Homo sapiens: one gene and its partners. The protein of the gene in region 1 interacts with the protein of each later gene in a biochemical or structural test. Each region holds a gene or a part of one and is shown in the gene's direction. Other genes may lie near its edges.

Region 1 (10,265 bases):
AGCTGGGCTGACAGCTGCCGCACGGTGGAGCTGGAAGGTGTCTGCTGGATGTGCACTCCTGAGAAGGGGGCCACCAGCTCAACACTCCAGACCTCAGTAGGGGTGGCGGGATGTTCTCTCTCCTGCAGTCATGGGGCTGGGCAGGTGGACACTGGCCTCGAGCCTGGTCTCCTGACCTCCCGCTAGGTCCACTGGGAAGGTAGAGTCTATTCATCCGGACGGGTCTAGCCCCATGCTCATCATCCCTCCTCTGTAGCTCTGAGGACAGACCACCACCCACTCCGGTGCCCACATACATGCCCAGCTGTCTTCCTGGCATGGACTTACTTTCCACTACCTGGAAAAAAAATCCCCCTCCTTCAAAGCCCAGCTCAGAGGGATTCCTTCTTAGCCCCTCACCACCTGAGGGGAGCCACCTCACTGCAGGGATCCCCCAGCCCCTGGCCCAGACTCCTCTCATGGCAGCCCCAGGGGTGCAAGCTACGGGCTGCCAGTGCCCAGGCCCCGCTGTGGTGCATGTGAGGGCTTGGCACCCCCAAGGGGAAGGGGCTGCAGAGCCCACAACCCCCTTCCACCTCGGGGCCCCAAGGGAGGGCTGGCAAAGCAAAGACTCGGTGGTAGTCACAGCAGCAGACAGGCGAGGCGCTGCCTTCTGAGGGTGGCTGGAGGGCCTCAGTGTCCCAGTCTGTACAGTGGGTCTGGATGTGTGGTTTAAGGCCCTTCCTGCTCTGGACCCGTAGTGAAGTGGTGCCTGGAAGGGTTTGGCCAGGAGAGAGGGATAGAAGAAGGGAGAGGCCAGAGATCATTGACCGGTGACCACATTGCCCGTGTGAGGCCGAAATGAGATCTTGGTGTGCAGCAGGTGCCGTCCTGGTGCTGCGTCCCAGGGTGGCTTGGGGTCAAGGATTCCCTGGGCTCCACCCCACCCCCGTTAGCTTCAGGGCGGGACCCTGGGGCCTCAGGGAGCTAGACTACTGCTGCCTCAAACCCCAAGGGACGTGTTGGACGGGAGGGGCCTGGGGGCAGAAGAGTGGGCTGTGCCCCCAGGAGGACAGGGACCTGGGGGAGGGACAGGACGCAGCCCTGGGCCTCTGGCCATGCAGCCCTCCCTTCCTGTTGTCTCAGGATGGCCCCGGCAGGATGCATCTGCCAGAGTTCCAGACCCAGACCTCCCCTGGGGCCTGCTCCCACCCACACCGGGATCCCACCACATACACACTCATGTGTGAACACACGCCAGCATGTCCGAGATACACAAACATGCATGCATGTTTGCACATACGCAGGAAGCCACACACACCACTCAGACATAGGCACACACAGACTCACACACCCAGGCCTACAGTTACAGATGCACATGGAGGCACGCGTGTGCACACACACACACACACACACACACACACACACACACCACCTCACGGGGAGGAGGGTGTGGGGGCAGCAGGGCTGAGTCCTGCAGGACAGAAGGCCCAGCCCGGCCAGCCTACAGTCTCTGGCTGATGGTGGGTTTCAGCCAGATGAGGCGGGTTTATTTGTATGTCTGAGGAAGAGCCCTGTGAGAAGACCTGGGGGTGTCTAGGGAGGCCTGGGCAGGGAGAGCCCGGAGGAGGCTGGGGCAGCCAGCAGGGTCTGTGAGGGTGCGAGAAGCTGAGGAGCGAAAGGACACCTGTGAGGTGACACCACGTGGCCTGGGAAGGGGCGAGGCCCCTGGCAGAGAGCAGGCAGGAGGGGGCGAGGCCCCTGGCAGAGAGCAGGCAGGAGGGGGCGAGGCCTGCGTGGTTCGGGGAGGACCTGGGATGTGCGGACCCTCTGGGAAGCAGCGGGTGTAGGGCTGCAGTTCAGGAGGGAGGGCCTCAGGCAGCAGCACTGCAGGGGCCGTGATGTGGAGGTGACACACTCCAGCGCCCCTCCCCCGCTCCTTCATGCCAGCCGCTCAGCTCACCGGGGTCAGAGGTTGGGGTTAGGTCCAGGGCCGGTGTGTAGCTGAGGATGGGGGCTGTGGGGCAAGGCAGGGTGCGCCTGTGGGAGAGGTTCGTGGCTGTCTTGGCGCCTGGGAGCTGGTGCTGCTCACGGCGCACATGGTGAGGCCAGGCCACGCGGTGCTGGCTGAGAACCTGAGCTGCTCCGGCCCTGCAGGGGTCTGCGCTTGCGATGCAGAATGCCCAGCCATGCCCCATCAACGTCGTGCCAAGTCACAGCCCAGCACCACGCTGACCCTGTCTCCCACCCCAGGCCTGGTGAGTGGCTACTCCATGACCCCCCCGACCTTGAACATCACGGAGGAGTCACACGTCATCGACACCGGTGACAGCCTGTCCATCTCCTGCAGGTACTGGGTCCCTCTCCCACTGGCAGGCCAGAGAGGCTGCACAAGCCCAAGGCAGGAGGTGGTGGCTGTGGGCCCAGATGGCAGCCCCCTCCCAGGGCAGAGTCAGGGCAGAGTGGCCTCGGGGCCGTGTGGTCTCCCAGGCTGTGGGTGACTTCGGTCCTCCCCAGCCTCAACCACACACCCCCATCAGCATTTCTTTTTTTTTTTCTGAGATGGAGTCTCACTCTGTCACCCAGGCTGGAGTGCAGTGGTGCGATCTCGGCTCACTGCAAGCTCTGCCTCCCGGGTTCACGCCATTCTCCTGCCTCAGCCTCCCAAGTAGCTGGGACTACAGGTGCCCGCCACCACGCCCGGCTAATTTTTTGTATTTGTAGTAGAGACGGGGTTTCACCGTGTTAAGCAGGATGGTCTTGATCTCCTGACCTCGTAACCCACCCACCTCAGCCTCCCAAAGTGCTGGGATTACAGGCGTGAGCCACTGTGCCCAGCCCACCCCATCAGCATTTCATATGGGGCCTCATCACCCTGCACCCCACTCCTGACACCTCACACTGACCCCAGGCCACCTCCCAGGTCATCTGCATCCACTCCCAGCCACCCTGGGAGCACCCACTGGGGCCCCAGAGATGGGTACCTCCCCACCTTCCCAGCTGTGATCCAAGGCCTGTGCTTGGCCACAGGCCAGCCCCGGGAGCCTGGTAGAGGCCCGGGGGTCGGGGAGTGCCCTGCCCTGGGCACGGTCTGTAGTGTGCGCCCAAACCCTGGGCAGTTCCATGCTCTGGGTAAGACAAACCTGGTGAGGCTCGGCCTGAGGGAGGCTTCTCAGGGACAGTCCCCATGGGCTGCCCTGGGGCCCACCTGACCACTCCTGTCCTCTGCCAGGGGACAGCACCCCCTCGAGTGGGCTTGGCCAGGAGCTCAGGAGGCGCCAGCCACCGGAGACAAGGACAGCGAGGACACGGGGGTGGTGCGAGACTGCGAGGGCACAGACGCCAGGCCCTACTGCAAGGTGTTGCTGCTGCACGAGGTACATGCCAACGACACAGGCAGCTACGTCTGCTACTACAAGTACATCAAGGCACGCATCGAGGGCACCACGGCCGCCAGCTCCTACGTGTTCGTGAGAGGTGAGACTTGGAGGCGGGCCAGGCTGGAGCAGGGTCCCGGGCAGCTGGGGCCCACACCGCCCCCAGCCTGTGGACCCTGGGCTGGCAGGAGGAGAGAACGGGGCCCTACCTGCTCCAGCGGGTGGCTGGTTCAGGACCAGCACCACCCAGCCCCGTGGAGCCCTCCCCCAGCCTGGCCGCCACGTCCCTTCCCCAACAGCTTGCTCCCTCTCCATAGACTTTGAGCAGCCATTCATCAACAAGCCTGACACGCTCTTGGTCAACAGGAAGGACGCCATGTGGGTGCCCTGTCTGGTGTCCATCCCCGGCCTCAATGTCACGCTGCGCTCGGTACGGCCCCACCCCAACCCCAGCATCCGACCCTCCCATCCCACCCCTGGGAAAGGCGGCCGCCTGTCTGGCCAGGAGCAAGGGGCAGCTGGGCAATGATGGTGGCCTTGTCCCTCCAGCAAAGCTCGGTGCTGTGGCCAGACGGGCAGGAGGTGGTGTGGGATGACCGGCGGGGCATGCTCGTGTCCACGCCACTGCTGCACGATGCCCTGTACCTGCAGTGCGAGACCACCTGGGGAGACCAGGACTTCCTTTCCAACCCCTTCCTGGTGCACATCACAGGTAACAGGGCTGTGCCCCGTTCCCAGTAACGGGGCTGTCACTGCCTCACTGGCCTCAGTGGGTGTCGTCCTGTGAGGGCGTGGGAGTCACTGTGTGCGTGTCAACAGGCAACGAGCTCTATGACATCCAGCTGTTGCCCAGGAAGTCGCTGGAGCTGCTGGTAGGGGAGAAGCTGGTCCTGAACTGCACCGTGTGGGCTGAGTTTAACTCAGGTGTCACCTTTGACTGGGACTACCCAGGGAAGCAGGTGAGGTCAGCAGCGCTGCCAGGCTGTCCTGTCCCCAGGAGTCCCTGTGACTGTACAGCACACACTGGGCCTCCGCGTGGAGGATGTGTGGGCCCAGGCCTGCCCCAGGGGCCCCGGTCTGAGTGGCAAGTGTTCCACCCAAAGAAAACTCAGGGCCTGGGTCCAGGGCTTCCGGAGCCACCGCTGGCTGGGCTGGGAGGTGTGCCTTCGGTGGGGTAGCTGTGCAGGAGCCCGCCTGCTGACGCGGGGCTTCCCTGGGTGCGGGCAGGCAGAGCGGGGTAAGTGGGTGCCCGAGCGACGCTCCCAGCAGACCCACACAGAACTCTCCAGCATCCTGACCATCCACAACGTCAGCCAGCACGACCTGGGCTCGTATGTGTGCAAGGCCAACAACGGCATCCAGCGATTTCGGGAGAGCACCGAGGTCATTGTGCATGGTATGGCCTGGGAAACCAGGGTCCTTGTGCCCTGTGGGCCTGGGCCCAGAGCTCACGGTGCCCTTGAGCACTCAGGAGTCCAGCCAGAGGGAAGGGAGGGCCACGAGCAGAGGAGCTGCCCAGCTCCTGCACCGGGCGGCATGGCCAGCCCCAGTCTGCGGATGTCCGGCTGCCGGGGCTGCAGGGGCCGTGGGGGGAGTCCCTGGTCAGTCCACGACGGGTCAGTCCTGGATTTACAGTGACTTCTCCTGTCCGGCAGAAAATCCCTTCATCAGCGTCGAGTGGCTCAAAGGACCCATCCTGGAGGCCACGGCAGGAGACGAGCTGGTGAAGCTGCCCGTGAAGCTGGCAGCGTACCCCCCGCCCGAGTTCCAGTGGTAACAGCCCTGGCTCCCCACCGACCCCGCCGATACCCTTCCAAGTCCAGGGGCAAAACAGACCATAGGGGAAGACGGGCAGCGTCCTCCCCGTCAGGACCTGCACACGGAGACCAGGCATGGCGGGGGCCTCTCTCAGGAGACCCCCCAAGGAACCCGCCCATAATGTGATATTTCAGATGGAAGGTCTGTCTGTTCCTGCCACACTGTGAAAGGTTTCAGTACCAGCCTTCTGTTACATGTGGGTGTGGTGGGCACAGCGAGGGGCTTTTCCTAACTGCCTCCTGACCGCTGGGCCCCTCTCTGCCCTGCAGAATCTCCAGGGCCTGCCCTGCAGCAATGGCTTAGCGTTCCCTATGCCTCCTTTTGCGAGGCTGCCTCTCCCAGGACCCTTCTGTCCAGAAATTTGGAGATGCCACAGGGAATTGACAGATTGCCTGGGCTGGGCCTGTGCTGCACGGCAGCGAGCGAGAGAGCTTCCAGGAGGCCGACAAGCTGCTGGAGTCCCCGCAGATCCCCGATCTGCAAGCGTGTGCTGCGGCCCAGAGAAGGGAGGCCTCAGGGGTGGCCCTGTCTCCGCTGGCTACTCCCTGCAGGCTCTGGGGGGGCATGGCACCCCTCACAAACACGTCCTCAGGCCGTCTGAGTCATCCACATGGCTCACCCACAGTCAGTCACACTTTGAGTCCCCATTGCATAGACGAGGAAGCAGAGGCTAGGAAAGGGTATTCCTAACTGATCGCCAATTCCCCAGGAGGGGTCTCTGCACTGAGCTAGCCCAAGAGCCTCCTTCTCTTCAGCCTGGGCACCTCCCTCCTGGCAGGGCAACTTTTCCTGGAGCTGGGCAAGCAGAGGCCCAGGGTTTCCTCAGCCAGGGCCCCTTGCACTGGCTGGGGGCTCGTCTCTCCTGGGATGGAAGGCCCAGGGTGTCCTGGCCCTGAGCCCAGTGTGACCCTCCCACTGAGGACACAGACTTCGGTGTCCATCCAAGGCACCTGGTCAGTGCCAAGGCCCTTGGGGCAGAGTCCTGAGGGCACTGGCAGATCCTGGAGCCTCACTCACGGGTACAGCTCCTGGAGACCCCTGGGCCCTGTCCCCTGCCCTCCAAGGCCACCATTACTGAGCCTGCTCTGGGCAGGTGGCAGCTCTGTTGCGTCCAGGGTCTACCCAGTCCTCAGGCAGCTGCCTCTCAGAACAGCTTTCCACTGGCTCACTCCTGCCACATCTGGCTCTCTTCCTATGGCAGCCACCCACCCTTCCTGTGGTGCCCACCCTTCCTATGGCACCAGCACATGACGATGGCGAGCACTGACTGGGTGGACGGTCTAGCAAACACACAGATGGGCTGGTCCTTGGCTTCCGAAGCACCCGCAGTGTGTCCAGCACGCTGCTGTCACTGTCCGGGTTAAACCTCACGACAGCTGCAAGGTGCATGTCATCTCCATTGAGGCAATGAAGGAGTCTCAGATCCAGCAAGTGGCAGACTCAGGACCAGAGCCATGCAGACAGCACCACCTCAGTTCCGCCCCTGCCCTGCCCTGCCTCACTCTGCGACCCCAGGCCAGGCACTCCCCCCGGGCCCCTGCTGTGATGTCCAAGTTGAGAATGGGCCCCTGCCTCCCCTTCTCTGTTGGTCTCTGCCCGAGGGCTGTGCCTCTCCCAGGACACAGTGGTGTATCTCTGGCCTGCCACACCCAGCACCAGGGGCAGGCACCTGTCCAAAGGAGGAGCATCTCCATACAGAGTCCAGGCCACAGAGACAGGTGCCTGCAGGGGCCCCAGCACACCCTCTGGGGCTGAGGCATCTGCTTCCTCACGTGTGCAGCAGACATGTAGGCATCTGGGCGCAACTCTGCAGGAGGCAGCACTGCCCTCGTGGGGCTCCCAGCCCAGGGGGACGATGGGCAAACAGACACAGCAAGGCAGGGGCAGGCCACAGCATAGGACAGTCAGGAAGGCTGCACGCCCCCACCCAAATGAAGGAGGCAGGGAACCCTGCAGATTCCTGGCTACAGAAATGAGTGTCCCAGCGAGGCAGGCAGTGAGAGCCAGGCCTGGGGGCGGGGTGTGGGCAGCAAGAAGCCCACATGTCTGCAGGGGCCACGCACATGTCAAGGAGCTAGACTGTGCTCGCAGGGACTGCACCTCCACTCCTTCAGGTGTCTAAGAAAGAGGACGGGGTCTCCAGGCCGTGCCCAGCTGGGTGGAGGAACCAGGTGTGTGGGACCCTCCTGGGCTGGGCTGGGCAAGCCTGGCTGAAGAAGGCTGTCTGCAGCCACAGGCAGGGAGAGAAGGCGGCTGCCCCAGCAGTGACATGGTCATCTCACTACTTGTGGAGAGTTCAGAGGCTTTGGGGCAAGGCAGGAGGTGCTACTGCAGACCTCAGTGACCAATGCCCGAGCCGGCCGCCTGACACGGTTGTCACACCTGGCAGATACGGCCTGGAGACCATCTCCAGGGACTTAGACCATCCCCTCGCAGACCAGTGTTCCCCGTCCTACCCTGCACTCCTGCCAGCCCCTCCCTCCTCCCAACTGTATTTGGGGTGGGGGTGCCAGCATGAGGTTGGGGCTGTGGTGGGATCTGTATGGGCCCTGACCTCCCTTCCCTGGCCAGGTACAAGGATGGAAAGGCACTGTCCGGGCGCCACAGTCCACATGCCCTGGTGCTCAAGGAGGTGACAGAGGCCAGCACAGGCACCTACACCCTCGCCCTGTGGAACTCCGCTGCTGGCCTGAGGCGCAACATCAGCCTGGAGCTGGTGGTGAATGGTAGGTCAGGGACGGGAGAGCGCACGGGTGGGCGGCCTGGCATTGGAGGCCAGCTGACCGGCCATCTGTGTGCCCACAGTGCCCCCCCAGATACATGAGAAGGAGGCCTCCTCCCCCAGCATCTACTCGCGTCACAGCCGCCAGGCCCTCACCTGCACGGCCTACGGGGTGCCCCTGCCTCTCAGCATCCAGTGGCACTGGCGGCCCTGGACACCCTGCAAGATGTTTGCCCAGCGTAGTCTGTGAGTACAGCTCCAGCCTCAGGTCCCCTGCACAGCCACAGCCCCCAGCCTCAGCCATGAGGAACCTCCTTTACAGCACCCCTCACTGCCCAGGTCTTCCCTGTACCCCTTCTCAGGGCCCTGCTCTGAACTTGAACCCTACCTTCAGCTATAGCCAATCCCTGGCCTCACCTCGCCTGAGTGAGGCTCAGAGCCTCCCTTGCACCCATCCTCCATCAGCTGGCCAAGCTGGACACAGGATGGGTCTGGCCCCTGCCCACCTCCCTCAAGAGCGAAGACCTCTGGACACGTAATTGCATCATCTGGAGGGAGAAGGAAGCACATGTCTCTGAGCACCCAGCAGGACACCTCCAGCGGGGTGGGGACCTGGGGGGGTGTCACCTGAGCCCCTGGGATGGTTGCACTGAGCCCCACGGCACACCATGTGTGCTCATGGGCCTCAGCTCATCTGTGCACCACTCACATCCCCTTAGAGACAGGGAAATAGGGTCAGAGAAGGGAGGCGGCTTTCCCAGGGGCACAGCTGTAAGCAACAGGACCCAGCCACCTGCTGAGCCGTGCTCCCCTCCACTGAGCGGGATGCCAGCAGGACATTTAGACAAGCAGGGGGTGAGAGGAGGACGCCCAGGTGGGCAGGGCTTGAAGGCACTAGGGAGCCAGTGAAGGGTGTTGAGAAGTGGAGACATGGCTCAGGTTTGCCTTTTAGCAAGAGATTCCTAGTATCAAACTGGGGCGGGATGGGAGCTGGGAACCTACATGGGAGATGAGGGTAGCCCCACTGGCTGTGGCTCTGGTGTGGTCAGTGGGGGAGGCTCAGTAGGGGTGGCATGAGCCGGCCCCAGATGTCCAAGGTTCATAGGTATTCTTCTAGATCGTGCGGCATGCAGCTCACTGCCAGCACCTCCAAATGTCCTTCCTTCTGGGTGTGCCACCTGTATGCTCTGTGCCAAGTGATGGAGCCCTTCGGGGGGTCCCTGCTCGGCTCCTCCACAGGGGCAGATATGAGCCTCCCTTGGGGCCCTGAGACTACCCCCCCAATCCTGGCAGGAGGCCAAGCTTGCTGGGGATGCACACCCTGCCCAGAGGGAGGCCGCAGCTCCTAAAGCAGGAGAGAGGGAGAGGCTGGGCAGAGATGCCTCCGGGGGCAGCATGGGACTGTGCTGGGCCTGCAGCCATGTGGGCAGATCCCAGGTGGCCTCTGCAGGAAGGGGCACAGAGAAGCGGGACAGAGTGCACATGTGCCTGAGGGACAGTGGGCACAGGAAGCTGGTGTTGGCAGCCTGTGTAGGATGGGTTGCCGGGTCCTGAGCCTGAAGGGTGGGAGACAGAGCTCCAGAAACAGGCCGGGCTCGGTGGCTCACGCCTGTAATCCCAGCGCTTTGGGAGGCCAAGGCAGACCAATCACCTGAGGTCAGGAGTTCGAGACCAGCTGACCAACATGGAGAAACCCCGACTCTACTGAAAATACAAAAAAAATAGCCAGGCGTGGTGGCACATGCCTATAATCCCAGCTACTTGGGAGGCTGAGGCAGGAGAATCGCTTGAACCCAGGAGGCGGAGGTTTCGGTGAGCTGAGATTGTGCCATTGCAGTCCAGCCTGGGCAACAAGAGTGAAACTCCGTCTCAAAAAAAAAAAAAAAACACCAAAGTCCCCTTCCCATCTCCCTCACCCAGGCCCGAGGGCCAGCCTCGCCCACGACCCCATATGAGAAGGTGACTGGATATGACAAGGGCTTGACCCCGCCCCCCATGTGGGCCCTTCCTGCCTGTATCCCTGACCTGCCCTTGCCTCTTCTGGTCCTGGCAGCCGGCGGCGGCAGCAGCAAGACCTCATGCCACAGTGCCGTGACTGGAGGGCGGTGACCACGCAGGATGCCGTGAACCCCATCGAGAGCCTGGACACCTGGACCGAGTTTGTGGAGGGAAAGAATAAGGTACAGGCCAGCCGCGCTGCTGAGTGCCCAGGGAGAAGGAGAAGGGAGGAGAGAGAGGCCATTACTGCCATGTGGTTTCCACCTGGCTTCCAGAGTGCTGGGCAGAGCAGCCGAGAGCGGGTGACCTTCCTGCAGTCTGTAGGCCTCGGCCACCCTGCCTGCAGAAAGGTCAGAGGGCCAGTCTCCGGC
Region 2 (10,265 bases), on another chromosome or scaffold:
CAAGTTTCTCCTACAAACCCCACCACTATACCTTTCCAAATATCTTGCCTGCCATCTTGGTCACCCGTGACCTAAATTAATACTTAGGAAGCTATGGAGATGCTCATGCTTCCTCAGGGGAGAATGCTGTGTGAACTTAGAAATTAGCAAAAGGGGAAATGACTACCCTTGAAATTGTACCACAGAAAGGAGCATACATTCAAATGATGGTGAAGTCTTATTAAAAAGACTTTAAGCCTCCCAATTTAGAAGCTGGCTTGTGGTAGCCAAGAAATTAGAGAATGATTTGTTATTTAAGAGTGAAATTGCTAGTAGTCTTGAATTAATTACCATAAAAAAGCTGCCGCTGTAATAAAAAGCAGAGATCTGGTAACCCTGCTTCATTCACTTTCTTCCTCTTGATGAAAACCTTTTAATTATTTTGATTTTGATTAGCACTTCCATCAGAAAATAGGAAGAAATTAGGAGCAATTTACTTGGCAAAGGTTTAGTAATTAAAACCACTGAAATCAATGGTTTAAGTATGTATTTGGGATAAACACATTTTTAATTGTTATTTTTGTCTTACCCAAGTGGATAACATAAAGTTCATTATACAAAAATCAACCAGTGCAGAAAGCCGATTGGGAACAAACAACCATTCTTGAACCCTTTGAAAATGTATGCCCTTGATGAATTACTTGTCAGGTTTCTACTTAAGTTTAATTGTTAGTACTTCCACTTAAAATAGCAAAATGACTGTCTGCAATTTCTGTTATTTCAAACTAGGTTTTAAATTCTGGGGTTGAAAGTAAGCTTAAATAACTCTGAGTACTTGAGTAAACACTGCATTTTTTATGATGAGGCAAGTTGTATGAGCCATTTAATTACTTTAATTCAATCCAGAGATTTGATATTTTCTCCTGAGTTCTCACAGTTGGATAGTTTAAAAATATTTCTAAGATTGAATTGAATCCTGTAAGAACTATAATAAAACCATACATCTGCCTGTTTTCTTTCTTTCTCTTTCTCTCCTTTCTTTTCTTTCTTTCTTTCTCTTTCTCTCCTTTCTTTCTTTCTCTTTCTCTCCTTTCTTTCTTTCCTTCTTTTCTTTCTTTCTTTCTTTTCTTTCTTTCTTTCTTTCTTTCCTTTCTTTCTTCTTTCTTTCTTTCTTCTTTCCTTTCTTTCTTTCTTTCTTTCTTTCTTTCTTTCTTTCTTTCTTTTTCTTTTTCTTTCTTTCTTTCTTTCTTTCTTTTTCAAGATCGTGCTCCATTGCCCAGGCTGGAGTGCAAGTGGCGAGATCATGGCTCACTGCAACCTTGACCTCCCCAGGCTCAGGTGATTCTCCCACCTCAGTCTCCTGAGTAGCTGGGAGTACAGGCATGCACCAGCATGTCTGGCTAATTTTTGTATTTTTAGTAGAGACAGGGTCTCACCATGTTTCCAGTCTGATCTTGAACTCTTGGGCTCAGGCAATCCTCCCACCTCGGCTTCCCAAAGTGCTGGGATTACAAGTGTAAGCCACCATGCCTGGCCTTGTATTTTTGGATAATATTGAGTGAAATTTGCCTCAATACATAAAAATCCTTTCAATATGCTTCAACTCTAAAATCTTTAAAAAGCTGCTTGGTTTCATTATTTTCACGTGGAAGCAGCATTGTCACAAAGTTTTATTTTGAAGACTGAATTGTATATGGAGTACTGTCCAACTAGAAGAGAATGAATAATCAGGAAAAGAGAGACTATTGACAAATAAGACTTAATGGAGAAGCATTGAATTTCAAAGCTGCCAGAGACATTAGCAATTGTTCAGTTTCATCTCCAGATTTCTTAGATGAAGAAGCTGTGGCAAGCCAATTTCACAAACCCGATCTATGATCCTCATGCTCCCCACTCCTCTCACTCCCACAATTTTGCCTTGATTCAAACTTTATCGAAAAGTGAGAAATCACAGGTATGAGCTCACTGAGCTTCCCAGGCAGTCTTGCCATCTACAAACCCATGTCATTCTGTATTTTCCTCTTGTTTCTGACAGTGATCCTCTCATCTAGTCACACTACATCCACTTATCTCTGGCACTTATGTCAAAACAACCCCTCTAGGTCCTGCCTTAGCTCTCCTGCATATGCTTTTTCTTTCTTCCTGTCTGTTGCCTCTTTCCCCCAGCTTATAATTCTCCCGCTTTTATTAAAAACATGCACCCACAGACACACACTCACATCTGGATTCCCAAGTGCGATAACCTTGTAGATTCATATTTTCAGATCGTTCTTAGTCCACAGAATATAAAATTGATTGAATGATGGCAAACATCTGCAGATGACAATCATTTACAGAAATGGCACTAAAGCCATGAAGCTGAAGCTGCAGGACTTATGGATCTGGGCTAGAAGACAGGGGCCATCAAAAATTTAGCTTCAGTTGGAAATCGGCTCTTTTAGTGCACTACATCAGATCCATGAAAGAGGAAGGAAGAGTTACTGCTCATTGCTGCCTGGAGCTGTGACTTCTATGAAATTACTTAACGGGGCAAAGGAGGAAGCAGATACTTCCTTGCAACTAGGACGTGAGCTGAGCTGATCCCTGAATCATAAATACTCAACAAGATTCGGATTCAGGACCCAGGGTATTATGGGGTACAACCATAAAACTTCTAAATGTTGGAGAAAGAATAATGAGAAAGAAAAATGAATCTCTGAATGAAAATGGAACTACTAACCAAAATTCCAAATCACGTTAATATAATTATTACTAAGAATGACAGCAACAAAATGAATAATCAGTATATGTCATACCTATAAAGTTAAAATCTAAAATAATTTGAAGAAATACTTAAAAATATTTGCAACCCTCAAAGAGATAAAGAAATAATATTCATAAAATTGAAATGACAAACTAGGGGCAGGGCGCAGTGGCTCACGCCTGTAATCCCAGCACTGTGGGAGGCCGAGGTGGGTGGATCACAAAGTCAGGAGATCGAGACCATCCTGGCTAACACGGTGAAACCCTGTCTCTAATAAAAATACAAAAACAAAATTAGCCGGGCGTGGTGGTGGGCGCCTGTAGTCCCAGCTACTCAGGAGGCTGAGGAGGGAGAATGGCGTGAACCCGGGAGGTGGAGCTTGCAGTGAGCCGAGATCGCGCCACTGCACTCTAGCCTGGGCAACAGAATGAGACTGGGTCTCAAAACAAACAAACAAACAAACAAACAAACTAGGAAGAATATACAGAAATGTAACAGAAAGTAGATAGGAAGAAGAATGAAGTAGAAATGCTTGAAATTAGAAATACGGTGATTGAAATTAAAACCTTAACAAAGTAAACTCTAGACTCACAACAATTGGAGAGTTGGTGATTGGAAAGATGAACCAATTAATTTACCCATAACACATTAGAGAGAGGTGAAGAGGAAAAAATAGCTAAATATAAAAGCACATTTAAGAGACATGTAAGATGATTAAAAGCCTCCAACATTTTTCAAAAAAGAGAGTAGAGGCAATATTATAGGTGGAATAATGAAAATGATAATGGCTGAGAATATTAAAGAATTGAGAATAAAAAAGACAAGTGGCCTCAGATTGAAACTGCCATGAAGGTCTCTGTCTCAAATTCTCAACTCTGCTTTTGTAGTATGAAAGCAGCCGTAGACAATAAGTAAATGAATGGACATGGCTGTGTGTCAATACAACTTGATTTACAAAAACAGGCAGGCAGCAGGCTAAATTAGGCTGGGAGGTCATAGTTTGACAGCTCTTGATCTAAAGAATAACCATTGTTGGCCAGGCGCAGCGGCTCATGTCTGTAATCACAACACTTTGGGCGGCCAAGGCGAGCAGATCACTTGAGCCCAGGAGTTCAAGACCAGCCTGCGCAACATGGCGAAACCCCATCTCTACTAAAAGTACAAAAATTAGCCGGGCATGGTGGCAGGCTCCTGTAGTCCCAGCTACTTAGGAGGCTGAGGCAGGAGAATCGCTTGAACCTGGGAGGCTGAGGTTGCAGTGAGCGGAGATGGTGCCACTGCACTCCAGCCTGGATGACAGAGCCAGACTCGGTCTCGAAAATAAATAAAGAATAACCTTTGTTTACATTTTCATGTATATGTCTCCAGATGTTCCTCATATATCCATATAAGTATGTATATATGATGTACATAAGTGCATAAGTAAAAATACATAAGTAATTTTAAAAGAGGTTATATCATAGCTGAATCACACATGACTTAGACCACACTTGCTCTTCTGAGTACCCATTTTTGGACAACTCTCAGTGTCCACTAGCATGTCTAAAAAAAATTTCTCCTCCTAAAATGCTAATGCATGATGTAGATTTTAACTACAGCTTTTGAGGCTCAGTGGAGGAGAGTGTACATCACACTACCCAATGCAAAGCCTTTTAACAGCCCCTTTTGCTCATCTTTGTTTTCCTTCACTGTTCCTCGCCCTGCAGCAGGCAGCTGACATTCACCTTTCCCTTCCACCCTCCTCTCTCAGCACTGGTCCTTTGCCTCCTCCCTCATCCCAGCTCTACAAATGGCCTCAGCCTGCATATTCCAACCACCCAGCAAAACAAACATCTAGTAACTACCGGGTCAGCAAGAGAAAATCGGAGGCCCTAGCCATAGATAGATCACCTTATCATTTCTCCAGCACATTCCAGGAAGGATCTCAATTCGTTCTGTCCCAATATACCTCTACATCCTTTGTTTTGATGATCACATAGAATTCATTGTATGCATATATCATTATTTATATAACTAAGCCCCCAATTTTGAACAAGAGGCTACATACTGAAAATCTTTTATCTACCAAGTCTTTTTTTTCTTACAAACCCATCCAATACAGTTGCACTGTATCCGCCAATACAGTTCATGCAACTGTATGGAAAGCAAACTCTAGAAGAGTATTTGATAGCTCCATAAGAATATTAAACTCTTATACTTCTAGAGCGTAAAACCCCAGAAAAGTATTTTGTCAGAAAAAAATCATGTTTTTGAAATAGTAGGTTTTAAAAGAAAACAAAGAGAGTTAGAAGTAAGAAAATTCAGGTTATCAGGGGCTTGATATCTTTTTTTTGTGACTGTAGTCAGGTTACCCAGGCCTTTGTGGATCAATTTCTCAAACAAATAACAGAGATGAAAACAACTGTCAGTAGCTACTGTCACAAAAATAATATGATAAACATCTTTTCGTTTCCTATGGCTGCCATAACTAATTATCACAAACTTGGTGGCTTAAAATAACAGAAATGTATTTTCTCACAGCTCCAGAGTCCAGAATTCCAAAATGGAAGGGTCAGCAAGGCTGCACGCCCTCAAAACACTCTTGGAGAGAATCTTTTCTTGCTTCATCCAGCTTCTGATGGCTCTAGGCAATCCCCCGCTTGTCACTGCATCACTCCGGTCTCTGCCCCCATCTTCAAATGACCTTCCTCTGTGTCCCTGTCTTCTCTTCTGTCTCTTATAAGGACACTTGTCATTGTACAGTATTTAGGGTCCACATAGATAATCCAGGAGGATCTCATTTTAAGATCCTTAACTTCATTACATCTGTACAGATCCTTTGTCCAAATTAAGGTAATGTTCACAGGTTCTGTGGGTTAGGATGTGGACATATCATTTTGAGGCCCACCATTCAATGCACTACAATTTTCTTTGTAAGTGTTCTGAGAACCCAGGAAGAATAAGTAAATCCTCTGATTCAATCAAAAATGAGCAGAATGTAAACCAAAAATACTAGAAGATATCCTTTTTCCTAGGCACTGGCATACGTTTCAATAGTATCTCTAATTACAGATGTATTTACACTTCTAAGTGTCAGAAATGAAGATTATTATGACAAATTTAAAATTTAGTAACTTGTTTTTAAACTGGTATTTTTGTTTTTTTAAGCGATCATCTCAGTCCACATTGGAACGATCTGAACAGCAGATCAGGGCTGCTTCTAGTTTGGAGGAACTACTTCGAATTACTCACTCTGAGGACTGGAAGCTGTGGAGATGCAGGCTGAGGCTCAAAAGTTTTACCAGTATGGACTCTCGCTCAGCATCCCATCGGTCCACTAGGTTTGCGGCAACTTTCTATGACATTGAAACACTAAAAGGTAGGTGTGTGGATGTGGAGACAAATTCTTTCTCTTTATTAGATAGTGACAAACACACTTACTTTCTCCAAAAGTCTGCGTAGGGCAGACACGTGTCAGAGGGAGAATGAAAGTCGGTCTTTGATTTCCAGTATTAGTGCAGAATCTTGATTTTTTAATGTTTACTTCACAGAGAAATATATTCAATATGATTTTGAGATAAAAAACACAAAAGAACATCTCAAAATATAGAAATAAATTTAACTCAAGGATGTGGGGGCAAAGAAAACCCAGGAAGACTATTGTTCTCAATAGAAAAACAATCATCAGGTTTACTTAGAAAATAAAACCTGGGGATTCATCCACAAGGAGTATTCTACTGCCATACATACATAGACAAAAACCAAAGATGGCCAGGCATGGTGGCTCATGCCTGTAATCCCAGCACTTTGGGAGGCCAAGAACGGCAGATCGCTTGAGCCCAGGAGTTTGAAACCAGCCTGGGCAACATGACGAGACCCCATCTCTACAAAAAAATAGAAAAAAATAGCTGAACATTGTGGTACGTGCCTGTATTCCCAGCTACTTGGGAGGCTGAGGTGGGAGGATCGGCTGAGCCCAGGAGGTCGAGGCTGCAGTGAGCCATGATCATGCTACTGCACTCCAGCCTGGGCAACAGAGCAAGATCCTGTCTCAAAAAAACCACCCCCTCCCCGAACCAATAGATTAGGTATAGCTTTTTTTTTTATTTCTGCAAAGTTGTGTGATTTTTTAGTAAAAGTGAAAAGTAAAAGTTAGACACTGAGTTGTAATATTGGGTACTGGTATTGCTAGGAGAATAATGAAGGGAGAAAATTCTCAAGACAAAATGATCAAAACTCCAGACTAGAAAATAACATAATTTGAAATAAGGATAATGATCGTTCCCTAGTAACGTATGAAGATTCTTTAAAAGAAAATCAGGCCAGGTGTGGTGGATGACACCTGTAATCCCAGCACTTTGGGAGGTTGAGGCAGGTGGATCACCTGAGGTCAGGAGTTCGAGACCAGCCTGACCAACATGGTGAAAACCCATCTCTACTAAAAATACAAAATTAGCCAGGCATGGCGGTGCATGCCTGTAATCCCAACTACTTGGGAGGCTGAGGCAGGAGAATCACTTGAACCCAGGAGGCGGAGGTTGCAGTGAGCCAAGATTGCACCATTGCACTCCAACCTGGGCAACAAGAGTGAAACTCCATCTTAAAAAACAAAAAAACAAAACAAAACAAAACAAAAAAACAAAGAAAGAAAGAAAGAAAACCAGTGTGAGTAGGTACTGTCATAATGAATAAAATGCTTGTCAAGTAAAGTTCTGTGGTTTCTGATTAGGCACTTAATTTTTTGATGTCATGTCAAAACAACACAAGAAGCTGCTACAGCATTGCTGATCTAGCATTCTAGATTTGATTAACATGATTACCTGGTAACTGACTATATATATAGCATAATTCAAATTAACCACTAGGCCAAAACTATTTTTTTCTTTCTACCTAAAATTGTATTTGTTTTTTCCCATTTGTAAAAAGATGTTGGGGTTGCACAGACCTCTGTTGTTGGCTGTGGGGAGAGCTGTGCATAGATGGGGACATATTCTTTGGTAGCACCTTGGGCATGAGTGTGAAGAGGATTCTTAGTGTTCATGTGTATGACTGTGTGTCTAAGTGAGTTGATGTGGTAGGAACCATAGCCTCGAGCTCACTTCAGACAGAAATTTGAAGCTCTAGATGTTTCTATGTGGTGAATTAATATAGCCTTCATGAGAACAAAGGGTTGGCACCTCATCTAGAGGTCAAAGGCCTTAACCAGATTACCTGACTGAAGGCCTGAGGTGAACCTGGAGCTATTTCATGAACATGAACGTTACCATAAAACCAAGACTAGGTGATCTAAAAAAAGTCAATGACATTGACATTTTCTAAGGAGAAAACCATTAAAATATCACGGAATTTGCAAACCCTATGAATTTATCTCGTAATTTCTAGGGGATCATCTGAAGTTATTTACTAAGTTAGAAGCAGTCAATAATGAAATCAGCATGTTACACCAATTAGAATTTGTTATCAACTCTCCCTTGTGGATTTCAAGGTAATTTCCTGAGGCAGAGCAGTCCTGCTGGGAAGCAGTAAAGAATAGTAGAGTTATGAAGCCTTTAATCAGTGATGTTGGTCATAATTGCATATGATTTTGATTAAAAGCTTACCACTCCAATTTCAAAACTTAGTTTTATAAAAAGAGAAAAAGCAAATGGAAAGCAACCTTTAAGTAGAATTTTAAATTGGGAATATTTTCATAGGTTGGTTTCTTGTTTTTTCAAGGATTCATGATTAATTATAGTGAATTAAATAATAACCATAATAATACTTAATTGAGTAATTTATCTCTCATGTGTTCAGCCTTCAGGCTTTTTATATAAATATTAATAATCAGAAATTTTTAAAAAGGTTTCTTGGGGGCTGGGCACAGTGGCTCACGCCTTTAATCCCAGCACTTTGGGAGGCTGAGGTGGGCGGATCACAAGGTTAAGAGATCAAGACCAGCCTGGCCAACATGGTGAAACTCCGTCTCTACTAAAAATACAAAAATTAGCTGGGCATGGTGGCGCATACCTGTAATCCCAGCTACTTGGGAGGCTGAGGCAGGAGAATCGCTTGAACCCAGGAGGTGGAGGTTGCAGTGAGCCGAGATCGCGCCGCTGCACTCCAGCCTGGCAACAGAGTGAGACCCCGTCTCAAAAAAAAAAAAAAAAGTTTCTCAGGATAGAATGTTTTATTATGAGGAAAAAAATAAAAAAAAACAAAGTTTAGGTAGACTGTGTAGTATAATGCAGTGCTCCAGACAACTCATATTATGTTTTCAGTGATTGAAGAAGCAACATATGAAAAAAATTGGTATTAAGGGATGAAAAAGGAGAAAGGAATGGAGAAGATGTTATAAGGGAATAATTTAGGGACTAGGGTCACATCTCAAATGGTAATATTGTATCAGTATACTTCAAGCAGACGTTTTCTCTATTCCTTCTATTCCCCTATATGGGAATTCAGGATAATCTCAGGAGAGTTCTTGAAAATGCAGTAAAAATAAAGGAGAGTTTGCCTATTGTTGCATAACACATTACCACAAAACTTAGCTACTTAAAACAATATTTATCTCAGTTTCTGTGGGCCAGAAATGCTGACATGGCCTAGATCAGTTTTTCTGCTTCAGATGTCTCTGGAGGCTGCAGTTAAGATGTTGGCTTGGGCTGCAGGCATCTTAGGGCACAGCTGAAGCAGAGTGTGCTTTCAAGTTCAGTCAGCTGTTGTTTGCAGGACTCAATTCCTCACAGGCTGTTGGACTGAGGGTCTTAGTTCCTCGCTGGCTATTGGCCAGAGGCTGCCTCAAGTTCCTTGTCGTGTGGACCTTTCTAACATGGCGGCAAACTAACACAAGAACTGAAAACCAAACACCGCATGTTCTCACTCATAAGTGGGAGTTGAACAATGAGAACACATATACACAAGGAGGGGAACATCACAAACCAGGGCCTGTTGGTGGGTGGGGGGCAAAGGGAGGGAGAGCATTAGGACAAATACCTAATGCATGCGGGGCTTGAAACCTAGATGACGGGTTGACGGGTGCAGCAAACCACCGTGGCACATGCATACCTGTGTAACAAACCTGCACGTTCTGCACATGTATCCCAGAACTTAAAGTAAAATAAGCTAAAAAAAAAAAAAAAAAAAAAAGCCTGCAAGTGGAGAAGGAGGAGAGAGAGAGAGAGAGTGTGTGTGAGAAAGTGAGACAGAGTAAGAAAGAAGGGAGCTTGCAATAAGTAGAAACAAGACTGCAATCTTTTTTAACTTCATCATGGAAGTGGTATCCCATCACTTTTGCTGTATTCTCTTCATAAGAAGCAAGTTACTAGGTTCAGCTCACACACGAGGGGAAGGCATTTACACAAGGGCATGACTATCAGGAGATGGGGACCACTGGGGGTTAGTTTCAAAGCTGCCTACCACAAGAGATTTTCACCAGCACCACAACCCCACACATAATAAATAAACTCTACAGTTCCATGGCAAGCTACAAGGAAGTCTTTGTGTTGTCTTTATCATAAAATTGAATCTTTCCCCCAAAACACCTGTAGAAAGGCTATGCAGCATTAAGTATCAAAGGGTCAAAATC
Region 3 (10,265 bases), on another chromosome or scaffold:
AGCGTGTAAGTGAGAGCCGAGACTTGCGCCTGTATGCTCGGGCCATGGGCTGTCACTGAATTTTCTTACAGTTTAGGGAGTCTTTTCCAGAAAGTTCTAAGGACATTTATTGGACTGAAATAGATTTAAGATTAGGAGAGCTGAAGGTAAAACCTTTATTGGGAAGGAGTGCAGCATCTGCACACCAGGGGCCGTCCTGTACCTGTCCAGTGCCTGCCCCCGCAGCCCCACAGGATGCAGCCGTTGCTGGTTTTCGGGCACCCTTTTGGAGGGACCTCCCAGGTTTCAGCCGTGAAGCCCTTGCCGATGCAATGATGCAGCATTTTTATGATGACCGAGAGTGTTCTCGTAAAACATCCCTCTTCCGCACAAAACAGGCCTATTCTAACTTTTAAGGCAATCGCGTCGTGTCAACGGGCCAAGAATAATAAATAGCTTTAAAGGCCAAAAATGTTACTCTGACCCTAATATCTGCATTGTCCTTGAAACCTTGCAGCTGTGTTTGTTTTTCCTTCATCAACCAAAGTTAATGTTATTTCCCCAACTGCAACCCCGTTTATAGAGAATTGAGTCCCATTTGCTGTGTCTGACATTTTTAGGACCATGATGTTTTCATGTCTTCCCTTAGCCTTATTCTAGTATCTTAGAAACCATGATAGACTCATATTAATGGGACCAGTCTTCATTTTCCTTTGGAGTATTTATTCTTAGCATATAAACCACGCTTCTCTTACTAATAACAGAATTCCAAAGGCCCTGGGAGGAAGGAACCCAGCAGCCTGAGGTGTTCCAGCACAGCCTGTCCCCAGATCAGGCCATCTGCTGGGGTCAGGGCCCTGCAGTGGAGCTTGGGCCCCACTGTTCACCAGTCCCCCTTGGTGTGTTTCAGCTACCTCCTGCCCCATCTCCTTCCATCTAAACCTGGCCTGGACACCCACGGTATGCGGCACCCCACAGCCAACACCATTCAGAGGGTATTTAAGATGAGCTTCGTTCCCGTTGGCTTCTGGCAAAGGTTTATAGCACGGATGCTGATCAGCCTGGCGGAGATGGACCTGCAGGTATTATGGCTGCGGTTTCTGCATAGACAGATGCCCGAGAGCCACCTACAGTTGTACCACTGGGGGAGGGGAATGCCCTTTGCTGGGGGGCCCTGCCTGGAGACCCTTCTCCTAGAGCCATGCCACCAATGTAGTGCCAGGGGGCAGGTGTGGCATGGGCTGCTGGCCAACCCACTGAAGCCATCCTGGGAGTTCCAAAGCAGCACCCTCCTTAGACAGAACACGCCCTTTATAAACAGTGGTTCTCAGTGTTAGCCCACCTCAAAACCACCTGGAGTTTGTTAGAACACAGTTTGGTGGCCCCACCCGAGGTTCTGATTCAGTAGGTGTGGACTGAGGCCAAGAATTCACATTTCTATCCATTCCCCGAGGTGATGCCGCCGGCCCAGCAACCACACTTGGAGAACCGTGAAGTTAGAAGCACGGTTTTGCCGTCCTGGCTGCACGCTAGACTCGCCTGGAGGAAATTCTAAAAGACACAGACCACACTCCAGACCGATTGAATCAGGGTCTTTGAGTGTGGCATCATTTGAAAAAGTGATTCCTCTTTGGTATTTTTAAGGCTCCCAGGCGAGTCCCCTGTGCAGTCCAGTTTGAGAACCACTTGTGCAGAACTGTACGTTGGTTCTGGTAACACGGGAGACCCCCCGCCCAAGGAGTTAGCTTCTGTGGGTTTACCTGGGGTTACAGGAAGGCGTCCCCGCTGTCAGACAACATTAATTTCATGCAGGGCAGGAACATGGAAGCAACATTTGCTACAGTGGTGTTTTTCAAAGTGGGGTTCCTATACCAGCAAAATCAGCCTCACCTGGGAACGTGTGAGGAACACACGTTCTCAGGCCCCACCTCAAACCCACTGCATGAGAAACTCCAGGGGGAACCCCGCACTGGTTTTCACAACCCTCCAGGGGATTCTGACACACTTTTGGTTTTGCGAACCTCTGGCATAATCCCTGACTGTCAAATCCTTGACATTAAACTCCGTATGAGTTTACTGTTGCTACATCCTAATTAGAAAGCCCTTATTGAATTATAACTTCTTAGCTCTATAAAAATGTTCTTTGATCTTCCCATTTTTACCGAAATGGTAAGAAAAAAATCAATGCAAAAGCCTTAAAGTCCATCGTGACAGTAGCAGCCTGTGCTAGCGGGGAGGGAGATGGGTTAATAGCGCCAGAAGGGTGCACTGATTGAAGGAGTGGGCGCAGGCGCTGGTGCTCCTACGTTCCCATTCCTCTGCCCTCCCTTTGAACTCTGTGTGCCGCTGTCTTCTCAAGGGAGGGTCATGGAGCACTAGCATCGTGGGAGGCTGAGCTGACAAGTGGGGCCCAGCTGGGCCTGGAGGCCAGGGCGCCCTTCCGGGCAGCAGCTTCCCTCACTCGAAGTTAGGAAAGAAGTCCTATTGAAATTCAGATGGGTGACAGGAGGGGGAAAAGAGTGCAGTCTCATCACTCATCAAAGGCATGCAAATTCAAGCAGCAGTGAGATGCCAGTTTTCATCCATCACATTAGCAAAAAGCTGAGCCGTAATCCCCAGCCCGGGGCACGGAGCGGCCCCGCGCACACTGGTAGTCAGCGCACAGGACAGTCTCGTCGTTCGAGAAGCGATTCCTCGGGATACATCCAGAGCTTTAAAACGATCAGACCCTTCGACCAATAATCCGACTGGTAAACATCTAAACTGAGGACATCATTTTCAATCAGAGAAAGCTCTGTGCCTTTCTCATGTAACTCAAGGTGGTTTTGAGGGAGCAAAAGATTGGCACCAACTTACACTTCCAGAAGAGAGTGGTTCAGGAAATTACTATGCTTAATAGAATATTAAACTTTAGAAAAATGAATTTTATGTGTGTTTTTAATGGCATAGGAAAGGTGGGGTTTTTTAACATATACGAAATTAGAAATCCAATATGGCTTCAGCTGTTTTTCACAAACATATGGAGATAGAAAAAAAAAAAATCCTGGAATAATATATACCAAAATCTGAATGATCTCTCTGCTTGGTGTTAAATTGGTGTTTTGTTTTCCCTCTTACATTTTTCTGTATTTTCTACATTTTCTAATATGAATTTTTGCTTGTAAAGTCAGAAAGGGAAAAAAATTTTAAAGGAAAGCCTATTTTTCAATTCTTTGGAAAAACTGTGTTTCCGGAATTCCCTGGAGACCCCGTCAGCTAATGTAACGTTCAATTTGGCAGCAGGGATGAGCAGCGTGGGAGGAGAGGGTGGGAAAGATGGGGGACATTTATCAAGATGGGGCCCAGCCCGGCCTCTGCAGAGCTCTGCCCAGGGCCAGCGAGGAGCCCAGAATACTTAAGCAGGGTCTTTTCTCTGTCTTTCAGCTTTTTGAAAACAAGAAGAATACTAAAAGCAGGAACAGGAAAGTCACCATTTACAGTTTTACAGGAAACCAGAGAAATCGCTGTAGCACATTCAGAGTGAAAAGAAATCAGACCATCTATTGGCAGGAAGGGCTCCTGGTCACTTTTGATGGGGGCTACCTCAGGTAGGAACACCTGGAAGCCCACCTGCCAGGTCAGCAGGTGCCACAGCAGCCACCGCGGGGCCACGTCAGCAGGATGCCTCATCCTCTTGGTGTCCAGAATTTTGCTCGTGAGAGCGGCTCGTCATGGCAGCTTGCTAGAAATGTGAGGCCCTCCCACGAGTGTCCCAGAGGCTCCGGTCTCCTCACCCCTGCTGAGCCCCCCTTGCAGGACGGGAAAGGCAAAGGCAGATGTGGCGGCCACAGCTGAGGACTTGAGGGACGTGGCGGCCATTGAGCTCAGGAGAGCCTCAGGCACTTCCCATGGTTATTCAGGTCACCATGGTGACCTTGCAGCCATCCTGCCCGTCCCCTTGTTCTGTGAGAAGCCAGGCTGGGGACAGGGGATGCTGAGACTCCTCAGCCCCCATCTCCACTGCCCATAACCAGACACGGAACTCAGCTCCCTGTGCCATTTATTCTTGGTTTTTTGAGAGCGGTAGACCTAAAGTCAGCCCAACAGGTTTAACGAATGATAAACACCCAAGATTATTTTAATGTTTACAATGAACTTTGCAAAATATTCTTCAGCTCTGTGAGAGGAGAAGAAGGGAAAAGGGGAGGTAACTTTACAGAGGGCTTGATTGGCACCTGCCTCTTCCGCATAGATGTTCTCACTTAAGGCCCAGGGTTGCTGCTGGACAGATGAGCATACTGAGGTTCAGGGAGGTCTGGGAACTTCCTTAGGGCCTCACCTGAGGGTCAGCTCCCAGGCTGAGCGTCCCTGACTGCAATCTTCCTCGTGCCTCCTTCACCAGGCCAGGTCCGGGGCAAGAACAAGGCAGGGCCACGCACACGTACATACAGGGAGGAGTCCCCCATCGGTCCTGCAGGGCACAGAGTCTCTCCAGGTCCCCGGGGGTTGGTTCCTGTCCCTGGGGGTAGGGATATCATCCCAGGGTCCCCCAGAGCCAGATCGCAATGGGCTCCTTTTGGTCTCTGGATTGCAGTGTGGAATCTTCCGACGTGAACTGGAAAAAGAAGAAAAGCGGAGGAATGAAAATTGTTTGCCAATCAGAAGTGAGGGACTTCTCAGCCATGGCTTTCATCACGGACCACGTCAATTCCTTGATTGATCAGTGGTTTCCCGGTAAGAGGAGATGCTAGAAGCAAGCCCTCATTCATGCTAATATTTCTTATGAATCAGGGTGGGGCTGCTGCTTTCGGGGTGGACAAAAATCCCACTGGGATTCAGCCCAAGAAAACTAGGGGGTCTTAACAGCACTTTGGTGGGAGTCCTGGCCCCCGAGAAGTCCAGCTCTGTCACTGGGGGGAGTCCCACGGGGAGGACTGGGCTCGGACACCACTGGGAATGTGCAGGGAAGCGGCCTGCCAGCTGCCCACAGGCGTGGCAAGAAAGATGACACTGGTACCACGAGTGGTCCACGGAGATGCTCAGTGTGAGCTCACACGTGTCTTGTTTTCATAGTGAGGACTGTGTGGCTGAAATTGCAGGGGAGCCGGCAGATGGAAATTTATCCCCTGCGCAGGGGCAGGGATGGAGGGGAGCCGTGGCAGCCAAGGGGCCTTGCTCTCCTCCCCTGCCACCCCACCCATCCCGGCGGTGATCAAACCACTAACACCGCCCTTCTCAGACCCTTTGGATCTGTTTCTTCATTGATAGTTCACCCAAAAAAAGTACTCTTTGAGTGAAGTTCCTGAGGCCTCCTGTTTGTTTTGCTCCTGGGGTGGAGACGACTCCCAGAGCAGCCTGCCAGGGGGAGGCCATCTGGGGTTTAATGGGGCAAGCAGCTGTGGGAGGGGCTGCCCTGAGAGCTTCAGCCCTGAACGCTGGAGGCCAAGCAGCTGTGGGACAGGCTGCCCGAGAGCCTCAGCCCCTGAACGCTGGAGGCCAAGCAGCTGTGGGAGAGCGGGTTTGGAATTCCAGTGCCACCCCTGCAAGCCTCGGCTGGTCCCCCGGCCTCCTGGGCCGGCCTCACCTGCATGCAATGCCTGCATCCCAGACAGCATCAGGGAAGGTGGCTAAGAGGCAGTGGCAGAATGCACTCAGGATACACATTCCAGATCCCAGGGTCTGGTCTCTGTCAGGGTTGGGGTCCTTCACACTGTTGGCAGGAAGGGTGACCTACAAGGAAAAAAGGCTTAGAAAGGAGCCCTCGGAGAAGTCAGCTGGGTGTGCGTGTCATGGTGATTTGGGAGGCACTTGGCTGTCTAAGGGGGCCCTTAGGCCCATGTGAACCCTTCTGGGCACTTTGCAGCTCCCCACCAGCCAGTGTTCCCCACACAGCAGGTGCTGGGCAGTTTGACAGGTGGGTCCCTTAGACAGTCACCTGAGATGGAAAGGGCTCTGGTGAGCACCTGAGACAGATCGCCTGGAGCCAGCATCCCCAGCCAGGGGCCCCTCCCAACGGGATGCCTTACACATGGACCTGCAGATATCAGATGTGCCTGGAAAGTTCTAGGCATCCACCTCCTACCTTGCATGAAGCAGGCAGTTGGCCGGCCCTGAGGGCACCTCCACAGGGCATCTTGGAGGGTGTTTCTCTGCACCTCCTCTCAGAGGCGTGGGGGAATCCCGTGTCCGGTGACTGAGTTTCGTCTATGATAATTTGCACTCATTTCTGCCCCTGCATTGCCCTTCATGGACATTGTAAACCTGATGTTTCTAATTGTAAGAAGGGTGCCTTCCCCACTGCCGTGATGGTTGGAGGATAGCTCACACCTAGTCTGCGATGACCTGTTAGGGCCCAGTCATGCAGGAGGGATCCCCCCACTCCTCTCAGGCCCCCCAGCCAGCCTGCTCAGTGTCCCGACCACTGGACAGTTCTCGGAAGCATCCTGAACCCTCCCTGGACACATCTTTCAGGACAAACAATTGCGCTCTCCAAAAAGGCACCCGAATGTGGCAGTGGGTTTCAGCCTGTCTCTTGGGTACAGGCCAGGACAGGCAGCTCCCCTGCTGCGAAGGCCTCAGGGCCTGGGGTGCAGAGTGCTGCTCGGGGGGCCCTCCTGCACCACCTTCTTGTGAAGCTGTCTCCTGCTCTGTCCTTATTTAGCCCTGACAGCCACAGAGAGCGACGGGACGCCACTCATGGAGCAGTACGTGCCCTGCCCGGTCTGCGAGACAGCCTGGGCCCAGCACACGGACCCCAGTGAGAAATCAGAGGATGTGCAGTACTTCGACATGGAAGACTGTGTCCTGACGGCCATCGAGCGGGACTTCATCTCCTGCCCCAGACACCCGGACCTCCCCGTGCCGCTGCAGGAGCTGGTCCCTGAACTGTTCATGACCGACTTCCCGGCCAGGTATGCCCCGAAGGCCCCTCCCAGAACACAGTGCAGGTCACAGGGGGCGTTCCTCGCTGTGCAGTTGCCGAGTGATCTCCAGGAAGACCCCTCTGGGGCGGGCAGGTGCCCCGGCCATGGCTTCCCACCAATCTCAGTACCTTTTAGGTTCCCATCCTCGGCTGCCTGAAAGGAACCAGGCTGCCGGCTTTCCATTTTGGAGGCCTTGATAGGCCCAACTGGGAAGAGTGCTTTGCAAGTGCAGCCATCCTGCCTCCCCATACGGCTCCCCCTTCCCCTCGTAGCCAGAGCTGCTCTCTCCTGAGCTGCCTCTCCTTTCCACTCCTACCTCCCCACCAGCTCTAGGGCCAGCAGATAAGTGCAGCCAGTGCTCCTCAAGCATTCAGGAAGGGGAGAGAAGGGAGAGCTCCCACCCAGAGCCTTGTTTACCTTCTTTGTCAAACGCTGACTCCTGTCTGTAGCCCTAGCGCTGAGCTCCCACCCAGAGCCTCGTTTACCTTCTTTGTCAAACGCTGACTCCTGTCTGTAGCCCTAGCGCTGAGCCTTGGACCCCTCAAATCTGTTCTTAGAGTTTATTGTACCTATGCTAACCCAAGATCATAACTAGAGAGAGAATCGGGGAGGAAATAGGAAACGTCACCTTTCAGAAGAAAACTTCCAAAGGGGTCCTTTCTCTACGGCCACCACTTCTGTGGGGTTCACCCTGTGCCAGCCATCACCACCTCTGAGGCCGTTCCTGTCCTGAGAGCCCTCTGTACAGAGGAGACTGAGGCTTAGCAAGCCTGCATAACCTACCCAGGTGTGCTCACCCACAAGTGGCAGGGCCGGGGTGGCCCAGATCTGTCCAGCCTCACAGATGGCTTTGAACCATGACTCTCGGCCGTTGGGGCAAATGACCCAGCCCAGGACCCACCCGCATCAGGGCGGGGGGGATGTGGCTGATGCCGGGCGTGTGTGGCAGGCTCTTCCTGGAGAACAGCAAGCTGGAGCACAGCGAGGACGAGGGCAGCGTCCTGGGCCAGGGCGGCAGTGGCACCGTCATCTACCGGGCCCGGTACCAGGGCCAGCCTGTGGCCGTCAAGCGCTTCCACATCAAAAAATTCAAGAACTTTGCTAACGTACCGGCAGGTAAGCGGGTCCCAGGTTGGTGCTGTTTTTCTCAGACATATGCTGCCCGGGTCTAAGCTCTGTGCGGCCTTAGAGAGGCCTGAGGCTGCAGGCACCCCATGTCCTACTGGCTGACACTGCGCTGTCCCTGGCAGACACCATGCTGAGGCACCTGCGGGCCACCGATGCCATGAAGAACTTCTCCGAGTTCCGGCAGGAGGCCAGCATGCTGCACGCGCTGCAGCACCCCTGCATCGTGGCGCTCATCGGCATCAGCATCCACCCGCTCTGCTTCGCCCTGGAGCTCGCGCCGCTCAGCAGCCTCAACACCGTGCTGTCCGAGAACGCCAGAGGTACCGCGGCGCGCCGCCCCACCCGGCCCCGGAGACCGACAGAGCCCCGGGCGCCTCCTGCCTGGCACGGGGGGTAGAGCCTCAGGTGGCCTTGGCAAGCCCAGGGCACGCCCAACCCATGGCTCGTGTGACCATCCCCTGGCTGCGAGGCCAGGCTCCCCGCCAGGTCCAGTCACTAGGCAGAGCCTTGGCGAGGACGGGGGAGCGCACACTCTGGAGTCGGCTAAGACCAGGCTCTGCCGCGGTCCGGAAAGCCGCTGAGTTTATTTGCCTGTAAAAGGAGGATGGTAACAGGCCTCGCTGGGAGGGCACCGAGCACGGGAGCTGCATTGAATCACTTTCCCAACTGCACACGTACACGGCTGCTGAGACTCTGAGACCGCAGGGTCAGTGGGACCATATTTTAACATAAAATGTCGAAGTAATTTACCTTGAGAAAAGAGCAGCTAAACTCCAGAGTGGCCAGAGGGTGAAAGGTAGCTGTCTTTTGACTAAGGAAGAAGAAATGCTATGAAAATCAATCACTTCTGCCTCAATGGAAGATAATTTTTTAAACAGAATTCTTTACTTTTTTTTAATACAGGATCTCACTTTGTTGGCCAGGCTGGAGGACAGTGGTGCAATCTCAGCTCACTGCAGCTTTGACCTCCTGAACTCAAGCCATCCTCCCACCGCAACTTCCCGAGTAGCTACAAGCACACGCCACCACACCCAGCTAATTTGTTGTTGTTGTTTGTAGAGATGGCCTTTCACCCTGTTGCCCAGGTCGTTCTCGAACTGTGAGCTCAGTCGATCCCCCCACTTTAGCCTCCCAAAGTGCTGGAATCACCGGCATGAGCCACACGCCCAGCCAAACAAAATGCTTCTACTTGCCTCTCACCCCTTTACGTAGGACAGCCTTGACCTGAGGTGAACTCTAGAGATTTCGAACCCTTGCTCATTCAGCAAAATGCCAGCAATTCCAGGAATAAGATATCAGGAATGAAGCTACAGCGATGAGCATTTCTATCCTAAATACTGTTTCACTTAACCAGGCCATTCTCTGTCCTTTATGGCAGTCTGGTGAATAGTGAGAATGTGTCAATGGAATATAAAGTATCTAAGGGCCAGGCGCAGTGGCTCACATGTGTAATCCCAACACTTTGGGAGGCCCAGGCGGGCAGGTCGCTTAAAGCCAGGAATTCAAGACCAGCCTGGCCAACATGGTGAAACCCCATGTCTACTAAAAATACGAAAATTAGCCAGGCATGGTGGCACGCGCCTATAGTCCTAGCTACTCAACTTGGGAGGCTGAGGCAGGAGAACTGCTTGAACCCTGGAGGCAGAGGTTGCAGTGAGCCAAGACCATGCCACTGCACTCCAGCCTGGGTGATAGAGGGAGACTCTGTCTCAATAAAAGAAAAAAGAAAAAAAATCATAAAGTATCTAGGGAGATCGGAAGACAAAAAGACAGTTGTTATCATGATAATTTGATTCTATCAAAACTGAAATTTTGATACATTTGAAAATTGTTTTTCTTTGCAAGATTCTTCCTTTATACCCCTGGGACACATGCTCACCCAAAAAATAGCCTACCAGATCGCCTCGGGCCTGGCCTACCTGCACAAGAAAAACATCATCTTCTGTGACCTGAAGTCGGACAACATTCTGGTGTGGTCCCTTGACGTCAAGGAGCACATCAACATCAAGCTATCTGACTACGGGATTTCGAGGCAGTCATTCCATGAGGGCGCCCTAGGCGTGGAGGGCACTCCTGGCTACCAGGCCCCAGAGATCAGGCCTCGCATTGTATATGATGAGAAGGTACGTGCCTGGATCCCCTGGCCCAGCCCCACAGTGTAGGAGCCCAGCCCTCAGGCTAGCCGGGCAGTCCTGGAGGCACCTGAAGCTTCGGGGCTCAGCATCCCCAAAAGCACATTTTTCTCACTCTCCCTTG

Evidence for each region.
Region 2: the proteins of FLT4 (region 1) and VEGFD form a complex in vitro, tested with the Homo sapiens proteins (2 studies listed by BioGRID).
Region 3: the proteins of FLT4 (region 1) and LRRK1 form a complex in vitro, tested with the Homo sapiens proteins (2 studies listed by BioGRID and IntAct, with this or other methods).

What each region holds. Positions count from the first base shown.
Region 1 is NC_000005.10:180,623,746-180,634,010, reverse strand, and holds part of FLT4 (vascular endothelial growth factor receptor 3 isoform 1 precursor), read left to right. Parts: intron 1-2,136; coding exon of another isoform or gene 2,137-2,232; coding exon 2,233-2,329; intron 2,330-3,211; coding exon 3,212-3,456; intron 3,457-3,673; coding exon 3,674-3,786; intron 3,787-3,905; coding exon 3,906-4,068; intron 4,069-4,175; coding exon 4,176-4,315; intron 4,316-4,583; coding exon 4,584-4,752; intron 4,753-5,011; coding exon 5,012-5,129; intron 5,130-7,745; coding exon 7,746-7,900; intron 7,901-7,979; coding exon 7,980-8,142; intron 8,143-9,949; coding exon 9,950-10,076; intron 10,077-10,265. UniProt on the Homo sapiens protein: Tyrosine-protein kinase that acts as a cell-surface receptor for VEGFC and VEGFD, and plays an essential role in adult lymphangiogenesis and in the development of the vascular network and the cardiovascular system during embryonic development.
Region 2 is NC_000023.11:15,358,924-15,369,188, reverse strand, and holds part of VEGFD (vascular endothelial growth factor D preproprotein), read left to right. Parts: intron 1-5,869; coding exon 5,870-6,080; intron 6,081-10,265. UniProt on the Homo sapiens protein: Growth factor active in angiogenesis, lymphangiogenesis and endothelial cell growth, stimulating their proliferation and migration and also has effects on the permeability of blood vessels.
Region 3 is NC_000015.10:101,045,092-101,055,356, forward strand, and holds part of LRRK1 (leucine-rich repeat serine/threonine-protein kinase 1), read left to right. Parts: intron 1-889; coding exon 890-1,061; intron 1,062-3,402; coding exon 3,403-3,566; intron 3,567-4,001; exon of another isoform or gene 4,002-4,552; coding exon 4,553-4,692; intron 4,693-5,542; exon of another isoform or gene 5,543-6,619; coding exon 6,620-6,869; exon of another isoform or gene 6,870-7,298; intron 7,299-7,366; exon of another isoform or gene 7,367-7,830; coding exon 7,831-7,997; intron 7,998-8,131; coding exon 8,132-8,329; intron 8,330-9,854; coding exon 9,855-10,132; intron 10,133-10,265.